Linked DNA regions of Homo sapiens: region 1 is linked to region 2. Evidence: fine-mapped expression QTL. A gene starts in region 2. The other region holds a variant in brackets. All regions are shown on one strand. Distances are from middle to middle. Region 1 holds the start of TMEM97 (transmembrane protein 97). Region 2 holds the start of POLDIP2 (DNA polymerase delta interacting protein 2).

Evidence for each region. PIP is the estimated chance that this variant, and not a neighbour inherited with it, causes the effect. A credible set is the group of variants that fine-mapping cannot tell apart.
Region 1: its variant is the best candidate, but not a certain one, in a credible set for the expression of POLDIP2 in blood mononuclear cells (TOPMed, PIP 0.74).

The regions. Positions count from the first base shown.
Region 1 is chr17:28,312,225-28,321,480 of GRCh38, forward strand. It overlaps TMEM97 (transmembrane protein 97), which reads left to right and starts at 6,976. Exons shown (of 3, transcript NM_014573.3): 1 at 6,976-7,141. The coding sequence starts at 7,016. RefSeq lists enhancers at 5,255-6,080, 6,300-6,559, 7,040-7,099. The variant C/T (reference allele first, on the strand shown) is at 5,418.
Region 2 is chr17:28,351,958-28,361,213 of GRCh38, forward strand. It overlaps POLDIP2 (DNA polymerase delta interacting protein 2), which reads right to left and starts at 5,570. Exons shown (of 11, transcript NM_015584.5): 1 at 5,331-5,570; 2 at 3,838-3,919; 3 at 2,531-2,628; 4 at 1,738-1,834; 5 at 1,284-1,359; 6 at 955-1,062. The coding sequence starts at 5,491. It overlaps VMA12 (vacuolar ATPase assembly factor VMA12), which reads left to right and starts at 5,690. Exons shown (of 6, transcript NM_152464.3): 1 at 5,690-5,924; 2 at 6,959-7,032; 3 at 7,358-7,447; 4 at 8,572-8,614; 5 at 8,778-8,890; 6 at 9,200-9,256. The coding sequence starts at 5,714. It overlaps MIR4723 (microRNA 4723), which reads left to right and starts at 8,697; the gene lies at 8,697-8,777. RefSeq lists enhancers at 4,970-5,735, 5,848-5,947 and a silencer at 5,268-5,657.

The DNA.
Region 1 (9,256 bases), 40 kb before region 2:
TCCTTTCTCCTCTGTTTCATTTCTTAGAGGTAACCATTGTTTTCAATTTGTTACCAGTTTTTTAGTAAAGTTTTAAAATTTTAAAATACACATGCTGTTTGGAAGATGTGCTTCAGAAATATTGCATATGAGTTTATTGTAATTATTAACTTTTGTTTTGTTTACTTTTATATAAATAGACTTTATTTTTTTCAAGTAGCTTTAGGTTCACAGCAAATTTGAGCTGAAAGTAAAGACATGGCCTCCTACACATTTGTTATAATACATTTGTTACAATAGATGAAAGGTCCACTTCTGGTGTAGTTCTATGCATTTTGGAAAATGTATAGTGACATTTATCTATCATTATAGTATCATAGAGAATAATTTCACTGCTCAAAAAATCCCCAGTGTCACCTGTTCATCCCTTTACTTTCTTCCCTTCAAATTCCTGGCAAGTACTGATCTTTTTACTGTTTCCGTAGTTTTGCCTTTTCTAGGATGCCATATATTTCCAATCGTTATGTAGCCTTTTCAGATTGGCTTCTTTCACATACTGCTGAATATGTATCCAAGATTCCTCCATGTCTCTCCTGGCTTGATAGCTCATTTCTTTTTAGCCATAAATAATACTCCACTGTCTGGCATATCACAGTTTGCTTATCTATTCACCTACCAAAGGACACCTGAATTGCTGCCAAGTTTTGGCAATTATGAATAAAGAATGCTATAAATATTGGTGTTTTGGTTTTTGGGTAGACATAAATTTTCAGCTCCTTTAGTTAAATACTAAGGAGTGTGATTGCTGGATTGAACGGTAAAAATAGGTTTAACTTCGTAAGAAACTGCCAAAGTGTCTTGTCTTCCCTTTGACAGTGTCTTTTGCAGAGTAGAAGTTTTAAATTTTAATAAAGTCTAACTTACCAATTCCTTCTTTCATGGGTGTGCCTTTGGTTTTCCAATTAAAAAGTCATCACTAACCCCAGTGACACCTAGTATTTTGTTTGCTTTTACTTGGTGTTCGTGTCATTGTGATGAGACTACATTTATTTTAGCAGTAGGAGGAAAAAGTTTTGTGCTTCACTACCAGGGATTACTATGATTGTTGTGATACTGTGATTGTTTACTTTTGTGGGAGTTGATGGTGTTTATGTTTTTGCATTAACGTTAAAGAAATCAATTAGCCTTTTTAATAGGGTAACTTTAATTCAGCTTAAATCTGCAAATTTGTGGGATTTTAGACCAAGAAATGGCCTGAAAGAGTGTCTAGTTCAAGTTCATTTTACAAATGAAGGTACAAAGAATGAGGAATATGACATGATTTGCATGAGGTCATACAGTGAATTATTAATGAAGACAGGACTTAGAATTGCTGATAACCATTTTAAAGAACTGAAAGATGTATTGATAATTTTTCTTGTATAATAAATAATTTTGATGATGTGTTTATTTCTTATTCTTTTTGACTTGGTGTTGTGGCTCCTAATTTTTAAAAGGGTAAGTTTTAAAACAGTGAAAAATATAAACAGTTTTTATACTTTTCAAGGAATCTACGATCTAGTGGGAAATATGTCCAGAGACATGGGCTCCAATCAGTGTTGCTCAGTGGAAAGGGACAAACTTTCGGAAACAGGTTCAGAGGATGTAACAGTGCCACCAAATAGAGGCAATTGGGGGCGGGGGTAGGGTGGCCTTCAGCCAAATAGTAAAATACATAGAGATGGGGGAGGTAAGCAGGGGTGGGGTGAGAAGGGTGGGTGCATTTTAAGTAGACAGAAAAGTGAAGCAAAAGTTGAGAGGTGAAGAAAGAGCTTTGTACAGTTGCTGCCAAAGAGGCAAGTGGCCAATTTGGCATGGCCTGCTCCAAGTACCTTTCAGCTGGGGTTACAATGCTAGAATTCGCTTTCTGCCATCATTGGGTCCACTGTTAGGCTAATGGTGTTTGTCTTGTCACAATATAAATACTTTTTTAAAGGCACTAAACATTGTTCTCATAAGGACAGGGTCATTCTTTCCACACTGTTGTCTTCCTCAGTTGACCTCTCTTAGAGCCATTTGCATTCTAAGACTTATCTGACCTCATCAAATTAAGAGCTATGGTCCCCTACTAAAGAAATTTCAAACAGCTGGACAGAATGTTTTTGGACAGAGGAACCATCCACTGAAAGTGCTTGGCCTTGAAAATCTTTATAGGTAACAAATTTGGCTAGGTGACATTTGGGGTTTTTTGTTTTGAGGCAGGGTCTCACTCTGTTACCCAGGCAGGAGTGTAGTAGTGTGATCACTCCTGGGTTCAAACCATCCTCCCACCTCAGCCTCTTGAGTAGCTGGGACTATAGGTGCGTACCACCACATCGGCTAATTTTTGTTATAGAAATGGGGGTCTCACTATGTTGCCAGGGCTGGATGAGATGTTTTCTGAGAAACTGTCACATTGACACCTGTACTTACCACATTTCCTGGACAAATCCTAGCCCACACTCCTCCGGCCCCATTGCCCTCCAGCAAGCAGTTATAATTAAGTTCTACAGGGAACTTAATTATAACTTCCTAAGGGAAGGGGAAGCTGGGTGGAGCGCAGAGCACACACCTAACCCACCCCAAGGTAAATTAAAAGGATATGGTACCACCATATCCTTAAAGCCATAATGGATGGAGGGTGGGAGCAGTGCTGCCAGGCCTCTCCAGCTGTGTAGTGTGCCAACCTAGCCAGACCTCTCCTGGGCCCTGGGTTTGGTCTGAAGACCCTGTGCGGGAAGGCACTGCTCTGCCCTAGGGATAGAAGACTTGGCCTGGGGCTGGGCGTTAGGATACCAGGGTTCCAGTCCCTGCCTTGTCACTCACTTTGTGACCTCGGACAAACACCTCTCTGAGTCTCAGTTTCCTCATGAGGTGTTAGGCCCTAGATATCTACAAAGGCCCTCCCAGCTCTTCATGTTCCATTTTTTTTTTTTTTTTTTTGAGACGGAGTCTCACTCTGTCACTCAGGCTAGAGTGCAGTGGTGCGATCCTGGCTCATTGCAACCTCCACCTCCCAGGTTCAAGTGATTCTCCTGCCTCAGCTTCCCATGTAGCTAGGACTACAGGTGCACGCCACTATGCCTGGCTAATTTTTGTATTTTTAGTAGAGATGGATTTTCACCATGTTGGCCAGGCCAGTCTTGAACTCCTGACCTCAGGTGATCCACCCACCTCAGCCTCCTAAAGTGCTGGGATTACAGTCCTGAGTCACCATGCCCAGCCTTTTTTTTTTTTCTGAGACAGAGTTTTGTTCTGTCGCCCAGGCTGGAGTGCAATGGTGCTATCATGACTCTGCAACCTCTGCCTCCTAGGTTCAAGTGATTCTCCTGCCTCAGTCTCCTGAGTAGCGGGGACTGTAGGTGTGCACCACCATGCCTGGCTAACTTTTGTACTTTTAGTAGAGTTTGGGTTTCACCATGTTGGTGAGGCTGGTCTGGAACTCCTGACCTCAGGTAATCCACCTGCCTTGGCCTCTGCTGGGATTACACGTGTGAACCATTGCGCCCAGCCTTCATGTTCTCATTCAAGTGAATGGTTTGGAGAAGTGAGAGAGGAGCTGTATACAAAAGTCCCCCTTATCCGTGGGGGAACATGTTCCAAGACCCCCAGTGGAGGCCTGAAACCATAGGTAGTACTGAACCATATTGTTTTTTCCTATACATACAAACCTATGATAAAGTTTAATTTATAAATCAAGCACAGTAAGACATTAACAATAAAATAGAACAAGTATAACAATATACTGTAATAAATAGTATGTGAATGTGCTCTCTCTCAAAATATCTTACTGTTCTCTAGATCTTAGCAACCTCAGCATTATTTCCTAAATCAAAAATCTTCACCTTTTCACATAAAGGAACTTTATGGTTTCTCATTGGCATATCCGAATTGTCACATCGCTACCATTGCACTTTAGGGCCTTTGAGAGGGGTCTCACTGTTGTGGAGGCTGGAGTGCAGTGAGGTGATCACAGCTCACTGCTGCCTCAAACTCCTGGGCTCAAGAGATCCTCCCACCTCAGCCTCCTAAGTAGCTGGGACTACAGGCAAGCCACCATGCCCAGCTAATTTTTTTTTAAGAGATGGGGTCTTGCTATGTTGCCCAGGCTGGTCTTAAACTCCTGGCCTCAAGGGGTCCTCCTGCCTCGGCCTCCCAAAGTGATTACAGGTATGAGCCACCACACCTGGCCCACTATTAAATAACATAAGGCTTACTTGAACACAAGCACCGTGATAACTCAATGGTCAATTTGATAACCAAGATGGCTACTAAGTGACTAACAGGAGTAGTTAGTCTGGGAACAGAGTGGAGTCTGAGAAAGAGCAAACTGCCTTTAAAGATTTATGGTGTGAACAAAATGGGCTCTCTCCTCAGGTGACCTAAGGTTTCCCAGGCATTGACTTTTTTTTTTTTTCCTGGAAAAAAAGCAGCAGCTAATTCTGAGTCCTCCCTCCTGAGCCCCTGGTAGAGTGTTCTCTCCATGGAGCCCGGCTCCCCCCTCGGAGCAGGACAAACAGCCCTGAACACCCCTGCCTCCCTGTGGCTGCCGGCTCTGTGGTCCTGGGCAAGGCTGACCTGAGACTTGGGGGACGCCAGAACTGTGTGCCCTCACGATGCTCAGCCACCCATGCTGTTCATCCCCTGCTCCCCACCCAAAGACCTCCACATTTCTCCTACTGTCTCCTTCCAACCTGCTCCTCCTCCTCTCCAGCCAAACCCCTCCACTGTTACCTCCCCCAGTAACTGGCACTTGGCTGAGGACTCAGCTTCCCCACAGCCCTCTCCAGCGCAGGCTATTCACCTTCTCGCACCCTTCAAGGTCAGGATAAGCGGCCTCCTCCCTCCGCAAGGCCATGTCCACACAGTTTCCCCTCCACTCTCATCCCATGCTCACCTTCCTTCTGGTTACTCCCCCGTGTGCAGTGGCATTTTCGCCACCACCACCCTGGGTGGCCTTCCCTTGACCTCATCTCCAAAGACCTTCCCCTCCACTCCATTTCAGCCGCACACTCCCACGGGCAGAACCTCTTCCTGACCCCAGGAATTCAGGTATTGCACGCCCTCCTCATAAGCTCCCACCCTTCCGGCCCAGTGACTCCCATCACGCTGGCACGTGTTCCTCAGCAGGCCTCCACTGTCTCCCTGTCTTACAGCCCCCTTTGGCCTCACCTCTCCCTCTCCCCCTACCTAGCTTGAACTGCAACCTTCTGCACCTCAATCACTCTTCTTCAGCTCTTCAAAGCCACCTTTCGCTTTTCTGAACCCAAACTCTGTAGGGGTCCAACAGCCTTCTTCTGGGTAGACCCCGCACTAGAGAAATGCAAAGCACACAGCCTAAGAGATTGGGGCCTCCGGGTCAGCGGCCCCCCACCTCAGCTGGGCCTTCAACACTGCCATAATCCCTCTGTCCTAGCCCA[C/T]AGCGCCCCAAGGGAAGGGGAAGCTGGGCGGAGCGCAGTGCACCCACCTAACCCACCCCAATCCTTCCATTCCCTCCGCCTCCTCCAGGGCTTTGAGCCGCATTTCCTGCTCTTCTCGAGTAGGGGTAACCTCTCCCACTGTCAAAACTAAACTAGCTCAAGTCTTTCTCACCTGCAAAATAAACTCTCGAGTGCATCTCTCTCCAGCTACTGCCCCATGTCTTCTCCCCTTCGTGACCAGCTGTCTACACTTCCTGCCTCCATTTCCCCACTTTCTTACTCCCTGGCTCCTGCCCCCACGACACAACTGTTCCCCACAGGGCCACAGGCGGGCATCACTCAGTGTTGACAGGCTGCCCCTCCCTGTGACATAGCCCCCTGCTAGTACGCTCCTATCTCAGTCCCCTCCTCCCATGACCTGAGGCTGGAGCTCCCCCAGGATCTCTCCCAGGCCCTCTGCTCGCCATCAAAGGCGGATGCCTCACAAGCTTACGACTCCAGACAGGCTCACCCAACTGCCTCCTCCACCCAACGCTGCAGCCCACTCAAGGTCCACGTAGTCCAAGCTGCATTCCTTCCTCGCACTCCCTTGCCCTGTGTCCCCTCTTAGCAAATGGCAGCCTCGGCGATCCTGCCCCGAGACAGGCCTGCGCCCAGCGTGGAGATGAACATCAGTATTTGCTGAACGTGTAAACGAATCCTTGACCTTCCCTCATGCTCCACAGCCGGTGAGGATTCCTGTCCATTTTACTGCCTCCTACGTCCCTCGAGTCCTCCCCTCTGCTTCTTTGTTCACCGCGGCCAGCTGCCTCCCCAGACCCGCAACCCCGGCTGGGCCGGGAACCTGCACCGCGGCGCTCGTGCCCCGCTCTGCGACCCCTGCTCCGTGACGGCCGCACTGCACCGGGGTACCGCGGCCCAGCACAGGCGCTGGTCACTAGTACACGAACTAGCTAGGACTACAGGTGCACACCACCACACCTGGCTAATTTTTTATTTTTTGTAGAGATAATGTCTTACTAAGTTACCCAGGCTGGTCTTCTGGGCTCAAGCCATCCTCCTGCCTCGGGCTCCCAAAGTGCAGACATTACAGGCATGACCCACCGTGCACAGCGTCAGCTTTATTTTTTTAATGCTGACTTACTGCAGAAGGCCCAAGGGCCAGTGCAGTTTTCATACTGCTGTTGTAGTGGCGAACGGAGCCACGAGGGAAGGGAGCGCCGCCGGCAGCTGCCGGGACACCAGGATACCACGCGGCCAGCACCGAAACGCTAGGCTCGCGCTCACAACCGCAATCTACACTGAGTAGCCGCGCGCCGAACGGCGTGACTAAGCCCCGCCCACACGGCGCTCCTGGCGGCCAATGGAAATGGCTTACGAGACGCCTTCTCCACGCGCTATACTTATACGGACCAATGGGTGCGCCCTGTGGGGAGTGCCGCCCCCTGTCCACGAGCCTCCTCTTCTCGCCAGCCAATGGAAGCGGTCTGCCTAGCCCTCGCGGGGGCAAGGCGGCGACCGAGGCGCGTGGGTCTGGGAAGGCGCGCGGATTTGGCCCCTCTTCTCACATCAGCGGGTCCAGGCCCAACCGACAGACTATGGGGGCTCCGGCAACCAGGCGCTGCGTGGAGTGGCTGCTGGGCCTCTACTTCCTCAGCCACATCCCCATCACCCTGTTCATGGACCTGCAGGCGGTGCTGCCGCGCGAGCTCTACCCAGTCGAGGTGAGGGGCGCCCCTCTTATCCCGGCCCGCTGAGGCTCTCCCGGCGCTGCGTCCACAGGGCCTTCACCTCCTCCGCGCTCGCGCACTCTGGGTTCCAGTTGCCTCTCTCGGGTCCTGCCCATGCCTCCCCCGCTCCTAACCCAACTTTAGTTCGGTGTTTTCCTCGGGCTTTGTCTCTATCCCAGCCCCTTCTCCCAAGCGGCGGGGGCGAACGCTTTGTTTCCTTTAAAGTCACTTCTTCCCTGGGTTTAAGGTTTCCCGCGATTCCACCTCTGGCCGGTTGTCAGTGTCTGAGGGAAGTAGTCTGGATGAAGTGGTGTCCAAAGTCACATGTTAGGTTTGCTTTAAGCTTCTGGTTTTTTGTTTGTTTGTTTGGAAGGGCTTTAAAATACCAGTCTGATCCCAAAGAAAAAATCCGAGTAGAAATAGACCTGTCTGAAGGTTTAGCACCTTGGTTGGTGCAGCTGGGGCGTTCACAGATCGTCACTGCTTCGAGATCAGGTTCCAGCAACTTCCAGAGCTCAGGAGTAAATTGCCATCTTTTCAGATTGGCTCTTCAATATTGGGTTCGAGTAACAATGATCTCCTGAGTAAAAATAAAGGTGAAAATCCCGATTTCCTGGTTGTTGGAGAGCATTCTTTCAACCCCAAACTCTGCTTTAATGCTTTGTTTTTTTCTTCAAAGCTATAGTTTTAGTTTCCCGGTTCGTTGAGGTTTTTTTCTCGTATCTGGACCCTGTGACCTTCTTCCATGGAATTCCTGTCCTCAGTTTTGTTTCTCCATCTTATCTATAACTGTAGGCAGGACTGACTTGTCTACCCGAAGATTTTATTTTGCGTCTGTTTTTCCTTAAATGCTTTTTATCTGCCGAGGAGGGGTTCTTTACCTGAGGGTCATGAACTCCCAAAAATGGGTGCAAGTGTGTGTGCCTTTTGTTTCCTGCAAGGAGAATATAGCTTCCATCGACTTTTCAAGGGGCCTAACTCTCCCAAAAAGGCCACGGCTCAAGAATGTTCTACCACTCCCATAAGTCACTCTTTTTTGTTTGCTTCTAGAACCAAACACAACTGGAAGACCTCTGACCTCCTTTTGCATGGGAAAAGCGTAGGTAGCGTGTAGCAAGTTGCAGTCTGGGGACTTGGTTCTTCCAAGAACTGGAGGTGACTTGGGCAGGTCAGGGCTCTATATCCTCCTCAACTGTTGAGAGAGTTGAGTTAAATTATAAGCTCAAACATATACAGGGTGGGTTAGTTTTCATATTGCTGTTGTAGTTACCACAAATGTAGTGATTTAACAGATTTATTTGTTTACAGTTCTGGAGGCCAGAAGTTCACAATGAAATCTTACAGTGCTCAAATCAAGGCAGGGCTCACTCCTTCTGAGGGCTCCAGGGGAGAATCTGGTTCTTGCCTCTTCCATTTTCTGGTGGCTGCCAATGTTCCTTGGCTTGTGTTCACGTCACTTCAATCTCTGCTTCGGGTCATCACATTGCCTCCCTTTCTGTAGTCAGAGTTCCCTCTGCTTCGCTTTTATAAAGACACTTGTCATACATTCAGGGCCCACCAGATAACCCAGAAAATCTCCCATTTCAAAATCCTTAATTACATCTGCAAAGTCCCTTTTGCCAAATAAAGTAATAGTCACAGGTTCCAGGGATTAGGATGTGGTTATCTTTGGGGGCCATTATTCAGCCTACTACAGGGCCAGAGAGTACAGACTCTTCCCAAAGACCGAAGAGGTCATCGCAGCTCTGCAGTAACCATTAATTGCCCTGAAGAAAGGAAAATCTACTACAGTGTTGGCCTATCTGTGGTTTTTGAAACCTGTGTGGCCAGCAATACTCAGACAGGCTGCCTGTTTACAATCTCTGGTGTTATAGGACCTTTTAATACTTGGTAATTAGCCTGCTACTCCATGTAGCCATTCCAGACTTCACAGCTGTTGTCTTCTTTATCCTTCCTGGATGTGCCATTCTCACAAGCCCGTCTTGCTCACCCCTAACAAAATACACTTAAAAGGTGCTCAGCATCATATCATAAAGATCCCATTTAAATGTTTACATTTGATAAAATTTTCTCAGTCTTTTTTTTAGAAACAGGGTCCTTTGTCACCCA
Region 2 (9,256 bases):
GGCTGGAAGAAGGCACAGGACTGCTACCAAGAATAAGCCCTGAGGAGCTAGTGTGATACAATGGGAAAACAATCGGACTGGCAGTTAAGAGCCCTGGTTTTCAGCCCTCACTCTGCTACTAGCAACCTTGAGTCCCTTGTCATCATCCCTGATCCTCAGTTTCCATATCTGTAAGGAAATAACTGCCATCTGTCATCTGTCAGGTATGACACCTATGAGGCATGACAGCTCTAACAGGAGGTTGAAAAGGGTTGTGGAAATAGAGCGTTGGAATTATTTCTTTTTTTTTTTTTTTTTTGGAGACGGAGTCTTGATCTGTTGCCGGGATGGAGTGCGGTGGCATGATCTCAGCTCACTACAACCTGTGCCTCCCGGGTTCAAGCAATTCTTCAGCCTCAGCCTCCCAAGTAGCTGAGACTACAGGTGCACGCCACCACACCCAGCTAATTTTTATATTTTTAGTAGAAACAGGGTTTCACCACATTGGCCACGATGGTCTTGATCTCTTGACCTAGTGATCTGCCCGTGTCAGCCTCCCAAAGTGCTGGAGTTATAGGCGTGAGCCACAAGCACCCGGGCCTTTTTTTTTTTTTTTCCTGAGATGGAGTCTCGCTCTGTTGCCCAGGCTGGAATGCAATGGTGCAATCTCGGCTCACTGCAACCTCCACCCTCCTGGGTTCAAGTGATTCTCCTGCCTCAGCCTCCCAGGTAGCTGGGATTACAGGCGCCCACCACCACGCCCAGCTAATTTTTGTATTTTTAGTAGAGACAGGGTTTCACCAGGTTGGCCAGGCCAGTCTTGAACTCCTGACCTCAGATGATCCACCTGCCTGGGCCTCCCAAAGTGCTGGGATTACAGGCGTGAGCCACCGTGCCCGGCCCTGGAATTATTTCTATGATATTCTTTGATGAAAAGGCCCTCCCATTCCACCTCCCCTTCTTGAGAGAGATTACCTTTTGTCTGGTCATACAGAAGAAATCTTTCAAAGAGTTCATGTTGGATGGGAACCTGATCAGTGGAGGTGTAGGGGAGGATGTCTTCATGGCTGACATAGTCCAAGCCTGGCACAGAGATGCAAAAGACAGTGGTGAAACTCACAGGAGAGGAGAGAGATGGGGTTGAGAAGAAACATTAACTGGCCTTGTTCCAGTATGGGATAACCCTGATATCATACCTCTCAGCATCATAATCCCTCCCAGTGGATGACAGGACATCAGAATCCTCTCCCTGAGACACACCAGACTCCTTCTTGACGGGCACCATTCAAATGCTAACTACTCACCTGGGATGGCATAGAGGGCCCGACTGTCATCATGGTTAGCCAAGAAGGTCACAGCTTCTGTCTGAGATCTCTGAGACTAAGGCAAGAAGTGAATCAGTGGTGAAACCATGTCTCTGCTAAAAAGTACAAAAATTAGGCTGGTGTGGTGGCAGATGCCTGTAATCCCAGCTACTCGGGTGGCTGAGGCAGGAGAATCACTTGAACCCGGGAGGCAGAGGTTGCAGTGAGCTGAGATCTCACCACTGCACTCCAGCCTGGCGACAGAGTGAGACTCCATATCAAAAAAAAAAAAAAAGACGTGAATCAGGGCTTTGTTGGCCACTGTGCAGTCCAAGGCCTTGGGGACCAAGACTGACCTGGGCTCTGTTTGACCCCCTTCCCTCCCTTTGTCCCCATTGGGATGCAGGACTTTCCATGGAGAGGACCCCCAAGCCCAGCCATCTTGCTTACTTACTATATGTGGGCAGTCACGAGCATCAATCAGCACCTGATAGTAAGTGTGAGTTTTGCCTTTCACCTCCTTGGAGCCATGGCCAGCAGGGTTCTCTGCTCTATGGGGTGGGAGAAGGAGGCCAAGATCACCCCAGGAGAAATGGAAGCTGTGGCTGACTCAGCTCCCTACTCCTCCTCACCTAAACAGGCTGGTCTCTGATCTAAAGGGGCTTTAGCACCAGCTGGACACCTGCTCTGCAGCACCTCAGCTCAGCTGCTCCTCAGTTGGGGCAAATAATAGAGCATGGAAGACCATGGTATGGAGCCATCATCTGACCGTGTGGATACCTCTTAAAAGAAGGGGGCCATGTTGAGAAAATCAAATTGCCACCTCAGTCCCCAGGGCCCAGAGTACTCTTGTCTTCTTATATCCCAGGGACTGTCTGTGATCACTTAATGGGGCTGAACCTTTTCTGTTTTAATGTATTCTAGGGATGATGTGAGATTGAGGGAAAGACTCCAGCTGAACATCAAGAAATCAAGAAGACTTGTCCCCCAAATGCCCTCTGGGATACTCATAATGAAAATTAGGAATGGCTTAGGAAAGCATTCTGAGGAGGCCTAAAGGGACTCTCTGACTTAGACTATCCCTGGCACTCAGCACTTTTGTCTCCATGGGTCTTAGTCCCAGAGAAGTACTCTGGGGATGTTTCCAAGGCCTAGGAGGACGCTGTCTTCACCCCTAGTACCCCAATTACATATGTCTGCCATCTCCTCCTGAGGATACTGTGAGGCACAACCACAGGGAAACTTACTTTTCTGGAGCTGCAGAAGCCACATCCCGGTCATACAGTCTGGCCTGCCAGGGAAACAGGACGACACCTCGGTAGCCAAAAATGCTATGAAGGAAAAGCTGGAAGGAAAGAGGGGCCTCAGTGAGTCTGCAGTCCAGCAAATCCATCCAGGTGGGCCCCAGACCACAAAGCAACACAGGTGGAGGCAACTCCAGCACAAGGTCTTGCTACCTCTTCCCTTGAAGTCTGTGATCAACCAGACCAATGCTGGAACACTCTTATTTCTTCTTTACCTGGCTGACTCTACTCATCCTTTAGGTAAAAGCTTAGGCCTCCAGGAAGCCTTCCCTGACCTCCCTTCCACTTAGCACAATGTACAGCTATTGGCCATTTGCAAATCGTTCTTTTCTAGACTAGAAACTCCACAATAGCAGGAATCATGTCTACTTTGCTTTCTGATTTAACCCTAATGCACAATGCCTAGTCCATTGTAGGCACACAGAAAAATAAAATGTTGAACAAACAAAAAGTCTTCCTTACCTACAATATCCTAGAAGGGCCTAAATCTATCCCAGTGGACCCAGAACAAAGCTGATATAGAAAAAGAACCACACATCCAGAGTTTACCACACTGAAGTCAATTTTATTACGGCAAAGCATCAAAGGTATACTTTTCTGAAAGCTCCCTCCACGGCTTCCCACCATCCACTATGTTAGAGAAATCTTCAGCAACTTGGCTAAACCTCACTATAGTCCACACCATCCCTGTCCACATTAACTTGGAAAGAGAACCCACTGACACATTAAGTGCATTCAAATCCAGGAGAACAGAAACCCTATCTATAAAAATTTGATTCTGGGCTGGGTGCGGTGGCTCACGCCAGTAATCCCAGGACTTTGGGAGGCCAAGGCAGGTGGATCACCTGAGGTCGGGAGCTCGAGACCAGCCTGACCAACATGGAGAAACCGCATCTCCACTAAAAGTACAAAATTAGCCAAGTGTGGTGGCGCATGCTTGTAATCCCAGCTACTAGGGAGGCTGAGGTAGGAGAACTGCTTAAACCCAGGAGGTGGAGCTTGCAGTGAGCCGAGACCATGCCATTGCACTCCAGCCTGGGCAACAAGACTGAAACTCCGTCTCACAAAAAATAAATAAATAAAATAAATAAATAAAATAAAAAATGAATACAAATTTGATTCTGGAATGGCACCAAACATCAAGGTGGAATGAATGGAACACCATACCATGCAGGCCTGTGACCTAATCTGACTTTTTTCAGAAGCAGAGCACTCTATGAAAATGAAAGATGACCCAGCCCAATACTCACCTGCCCGGTCTCATATTTTCCATTCTGTTTTGGCACCTCAAACACACCAACTGTCTCCAACACTTTGCCCTCTGGTCGGTTTCTGAGTAGGAAGGAAAAGAACAAGCAACAGAAAAGCTGAGAAGGTAATGGTAGTTATCCATAAGAAAAAGCTCCTAGGATACTGAGGGGCCAGGGCGATGACAGCAGAGAAGGGTTTGGGGTAGTGGGACCAGCTGGAGCAGGAAAGGCTTTCCTCCTCCTTGGTGAAAACCTCCACAGTCTCCCAGTGTTAGATGTGACCGCTCCCATACTACTGTCTTCTCTCTTCACTGGGCATTCTTCATATCATGCCCTCACACTCTGCTCAAATGTACCCCTGCCCTTGTTTCTTCCCTAACCCACCCTCCTGACCTCCCACAGCACTTTAACTGTCTTGCTCACTTTTTCAATTTTTTTAGAAGGGGAGTATCTTTTTTTCTTCTTTTCTTACATTTTCTATATCACAAGTCATCAAACAATATCCTGCTCCCTTTACATTTCAGTTGTGTCCATGTCTTATCTTTATTAAATACTGTAAATTCCCTGGGAGCAATGCCTGAGTCTGATTAGCTGGTACTGCCCCCTCAGAGCCTAGTGTACAAGAGGTGCTCAAAAAATATTTGTCCTGTATTATAATTCCATGTCCATCTCCCCCTCTAACCTGTAGCCCTTACATTGCCCTTGAAAAGCTTAAACATCTCTAGATTTCCTACGGCACATCGCTCTCTCAATACCGTTTTTGTTCATATTCTCACAGGGGTCTTAAATTGCAAATAGCTATCATCTCTCCCCAATGTTCAGTGTCTAATATCAGCCACTAAAATGTCAGTCACCACTCTGAACAGGGCTGCTCTTTCTAGGGGCCCTTCAAATAAAGGCTGTTTTTACTGTTTTGAAGATGTGAACTTTATGCTTCCTCCCACTGATCCACCAGCCCATTTGATCCGCCTGTCCCATCCGTGGAAACAGTTTCCACACCATCCCCATGGCCTCAAACCCCCTTCCCCAAGTCACAGATAGAAAATCGATCTCCCCAAAGTCACTTGGAAACCTGGGGCCTACGAGGGTCCACACCCAAGAGTCTCGTTTCCCACCTCTAGCATCTTTCTGAGGCAGACCTTCACCAAATCCAAAGGCTGAGGGTTCAAGCCAATGCCCTAGGGCTGAATTAAAAAGCTTCCCTCTGACATCGGTGCTGGGGACCCCAGCCGGGGAAGTAGGATTCACTTGGGGAGGGTAACCTGTTCCCCCCCAGGGCCAGCCCTGTACAACCAGGGCTCTGGGCCGCGCTGGCTTCCCTGCTCCTGGCACATGTCCCAGACAGCGCAGGTCGGCTCCCTGCTCGGGACCCTCTCCCGGGTCAAACTCCAGTCACCCTCAGCAGGCCCGGGCCCCTGGCCTCCGCACTGGCTAGGAACACGCTCTCTGGGCTCCAGGCCCAGTTCCTCGCGCCCCCTGGCTCCGTCCCTCACCGGGACGAGAGGTGCCTCCGCGTCGTCGTGGTCGACGCTGGCGAGAAGGCTCCAGCTCCGGCCGCCGCACAGAGCGGCCTTGGCCACCGGGCCCCAGTCAGCGACCGGGACCACCAGCGGCTGCCCACGGCCAGGGCCCGCCGGGCTGTACAGGCTGCCATGTCCCGCCCGAGCGCCCGCCCGGCTGCTGACACAGAGCCCGACCCGCGGCCGGGCGGCGTTCCGCCCCAGTCCCACACTGCCCCGCGCGGCGTCCCGGCCCTCTTGGCCCGCCTGGTCCCACCCCGGAGCTCAGAGCAACTTCCGGTGCGCTTAGCGTTACTTCCGGCGCGCGGCGGGCGGAAGTCCGGGTTGGGGTCACCTGACCGGAGAGCCGGCTAGATATGGCGTCCTCTTTGCTTGCGGGCGAGCGATTGGTGCGTGCTTTGGGCCCCGGCGGGGAGCTGGAGCCAGAGCGGCTACCCCGAAAGCTGCGGGCCGAGCTTGAGGCCGCGCTGGGGAAGAAGCACAAGGGCGGTGATAGCTCCAGTGGCCCCCAACGCTTGGTTTCTTTCCGTCTCATCCGGGATCTGCACCAGCATCTGAGAGAAAGGGGTGAGCCCCAGTCTCCAGTCCGGGGTCCCCTCCTTGTGTCCAGATCGATTCCCTCCTGAGGTCTTTTCCCATCATTCCCCTTCTTCTACGGAGCACTCATCTAGACAAGTCAAGAGTCACTCCATAAATCCCAGGGCCACCCACTTTCTTAACTCCCATGGGAATTTCTCGTGGATGACAAATTTGCTTGTGCAGTTTCTGCTCTTTTGAGAGCCCCCTCTTCACTTCCAGGCACACCTAGGCCCAATTCACCCTTGAGAAAGTCTAGGTTTTTACCAAATACAAATATCACAGGTTTTGTCTCTTCTTTTTCTCCACTTTAGGAATCAGCTTAGCATAGTGAGCTTGTAGGAATCCGGATTTCTTTCCACCTCAAAAGCAAGAGTGGTGAAATCTGATACTTTGTTTTGTTTGTTTGTTTTTTTAATATAGGATGGCAAAAGCTGTGTTGAAAGATCTGGCCTGAGAGTAGCATGTGAGTTCCAGTCCTAGCTCTGTCACTAATCCTTTGAAGGAGTCATTTCTCCTCGCTGGGCCTCAGTTCCCTTATGTGTAAAGGGAAGGAACAGGACAAACTAGCACATAAGGTATTTTGCCAGAAGTAACATAGACCAGCCAGAAGTGCAAAGGGTAGACTGCTCAATTATTAGAACTAGAAAGGACCTTAGAAAGAGATTGCCTAGTATTAGTGTCCTCTGAGCATTTAGCATCACTATGACCTAAACTTATTTAGGGAAGAGCTGTTGTGGCCACAGAACTGATCTAACCCAAAGGCACAAGTAAATGGCTTACTTGTTAGTTATAACACTGGCAGGATAATTGAGAGCTGACAGCTAAAGTCACCTGCGCAGCACTGGGAGATACCTACATGGAATTATCCAAAATTCTTTTCAATTGAAAATGATCCTGGAAATGGATTAATGTAGAGATGGCCCTGTTTTATTTTGGTAGAAAGAAGGGCTACACCCCTCTTGATCTTAACCCTTCAACCTCAGCTCGTGGATCATTGTGTTTGTGAAACCTTTTCTTCTCAGATTCCAAACTATACCTCCATGAGCTCCTAGAAGGCAGTGAAATCTATCTCCCAGAGGTTGTGAAGCCTCCACGGGTATGTAAGGGATATGTTTGTGAGAGTGGTTATTGACTGAGTTGGGCTTATCCATGATACACTGAACTTATAAATCAACTTTTAGGCTTGAAAAATTGTTTTTGAAATCTTTGGGATCTGGGGGAGCCAGATATTGTCCTCCCCATCAGCTGTTTGGAAAATTGAGATCAAAAAAAAAAAAAACAGTTTCAAAGCACTGGAGTTACGACTAGTATGTGGGTCTCCTGATACCTTTAGCAGTGCTTTACCCCTGGAACCAATGATTGTGATGTGCTTTCTAACAAGCTGGGAATATCATTCTTCTCATTTGATTTTTCTGCTTCAGAACCCAGAACTAGTTGCCCGGCTGGAGAAGATTAAGATACAGCTGGCCAATGAGGAATATAAACGGATCACCCGCAACGTCACTTGTCAGGTAAGGACATGCTCTTCAGTACGTGGTCTAGGTAGCCCCTCAGAGTAGGGCCCTGCAGTGGAAGAAGATACAGAGTTTAGAAAAAACATGGAAACTTGGTTTCTATACTGTTCAGGGACCATAGGAAGTCTGCATACAAACAACACAGTTCCCATCTCATTCACTGAGACTCTGGGCTGAGATGGTGACCAAGTTTTAAACGTCATAGAAGTGGGAGTTAGCCGGGCACGGCGCTCATGCCTGTAATCCTAGCACTTTGGGAGGCTGAGGTAGGTGGATCACTTGAGGTCGGGAGTTCGTGACCAGCCTGGCCAACATGGTGAAACCCCGTCTTTACAAAAAATACAAAACTTAGCCTGGCGTGGTGGCGGGCACCTGTAATCCCAGCTACTCGAGAGGCTGAGGCAGGAGAATCACTTGAACCCAGGAGGCGGAGGCAGAGGCTGCTGTGAGCCAACACTGCACCATTGCACTCCAGCCTGAGCAACAAGAGCAAGACTCCATCTCAAAATAAATAAATAAATAAATAAATAAGTGGGAATGAATCTTGGAGGCTTTTTTTCTTCTTCTTTTTTTTTTTTGAGATGGAGTCTCACTCTGTCACCCAGGCTGGAGGGCAGTGGCAGGATCTCTGCTCACTGCGGCCTCCGCCTTCCAGGTTTAAGTGATTCTTATGCCTCAGCCTCCCAAGTAGCTGGGATTACAGGCATGCACCACCACGCCAGGCTAATTTTTTGTATTTTTAGTAGAGACCACGTTGGCCAGGCTGGTCTTGAACTCCCAGCCTCAAGGTGATCCTCCTGCCTCGGCCTCCCAAAGTGCTGGGATTACAAGGTGAGCCACTGTGCCCAGCCATTCGAGCATTTCTTCTGACAGGGCTCCCTACTACTCTATGGCATGCTCCTACCCTGGAACAGGAGAGTAGATGGGTACTGGCAGCCTATGTCCTCTCTCCGAAATGCCTGCTCTGTAGTCCAGAAAAGAGTCAAAATGGTTCCAGACAAAAGAATCCATGGGGAGGGCAGAGTTAATATGTTGGGGAATAGAGAGGGCTGAGCCAGACTGTCAATGGATGCTCTCTGAGCTGCTTCTATTCTGAATCATCTTCTTTTTCTTTTTCCCAGGATACAAGACATGGTGGGACTCTCAGCGACCTGGGAAAGCAAGGTGAGGTACTAGGAGATCAGGCTTCTAAAACCTTTTCCTGAGATGGGTCATGACACTCAGGCTTGTTGTTTGACTGAAACCCAGTTGGTGGGGGAGCCATGAGATAAGAGCACCTCCTAGAGAATGTTGAACTAAAGGTGCCCTCTCTGGCTCCTCCCCAAAGTGAGATCATTGAAGGCTCTGGTCATCACCATCTTCAATTTCATTGTCACGGTGGTTGCTGCCTTCGTCTGCACTTACCTTGGAAGCCAATATATCTTCACAGAAATGGCCTCGGTGAGTAGGCACTGGGCAGGGCAGGGTGCCCCTGGTGGGGGTGTTAGTGGGTAAGGGAGGACGTATGTGAAAGTGCCTTGCACAGGTTAGGTATTGAACAGATATTTATGCCATTAATAAGGGGAGCATTAGAGCTTTCCAGCAGTCACGGGAGGTTAGGTAATAACCCCAGGAGAAGCCACATTCTCTTTTCTTCCCCTCCCCCAACTTAGAGGGTGGTTGGGGGGCTCTCCATCCTCATTAAAGTTGCTGGGGTACAGAGCTGGTTGTTGGCCTGCATCCCTTAAGCCTGGTTCTCCCCATCTCCAGCGGGTGCTAGCTGCATTGATCGTCGCCTCTGTGGTGGGTCTGGCCGAGCTGTATGTC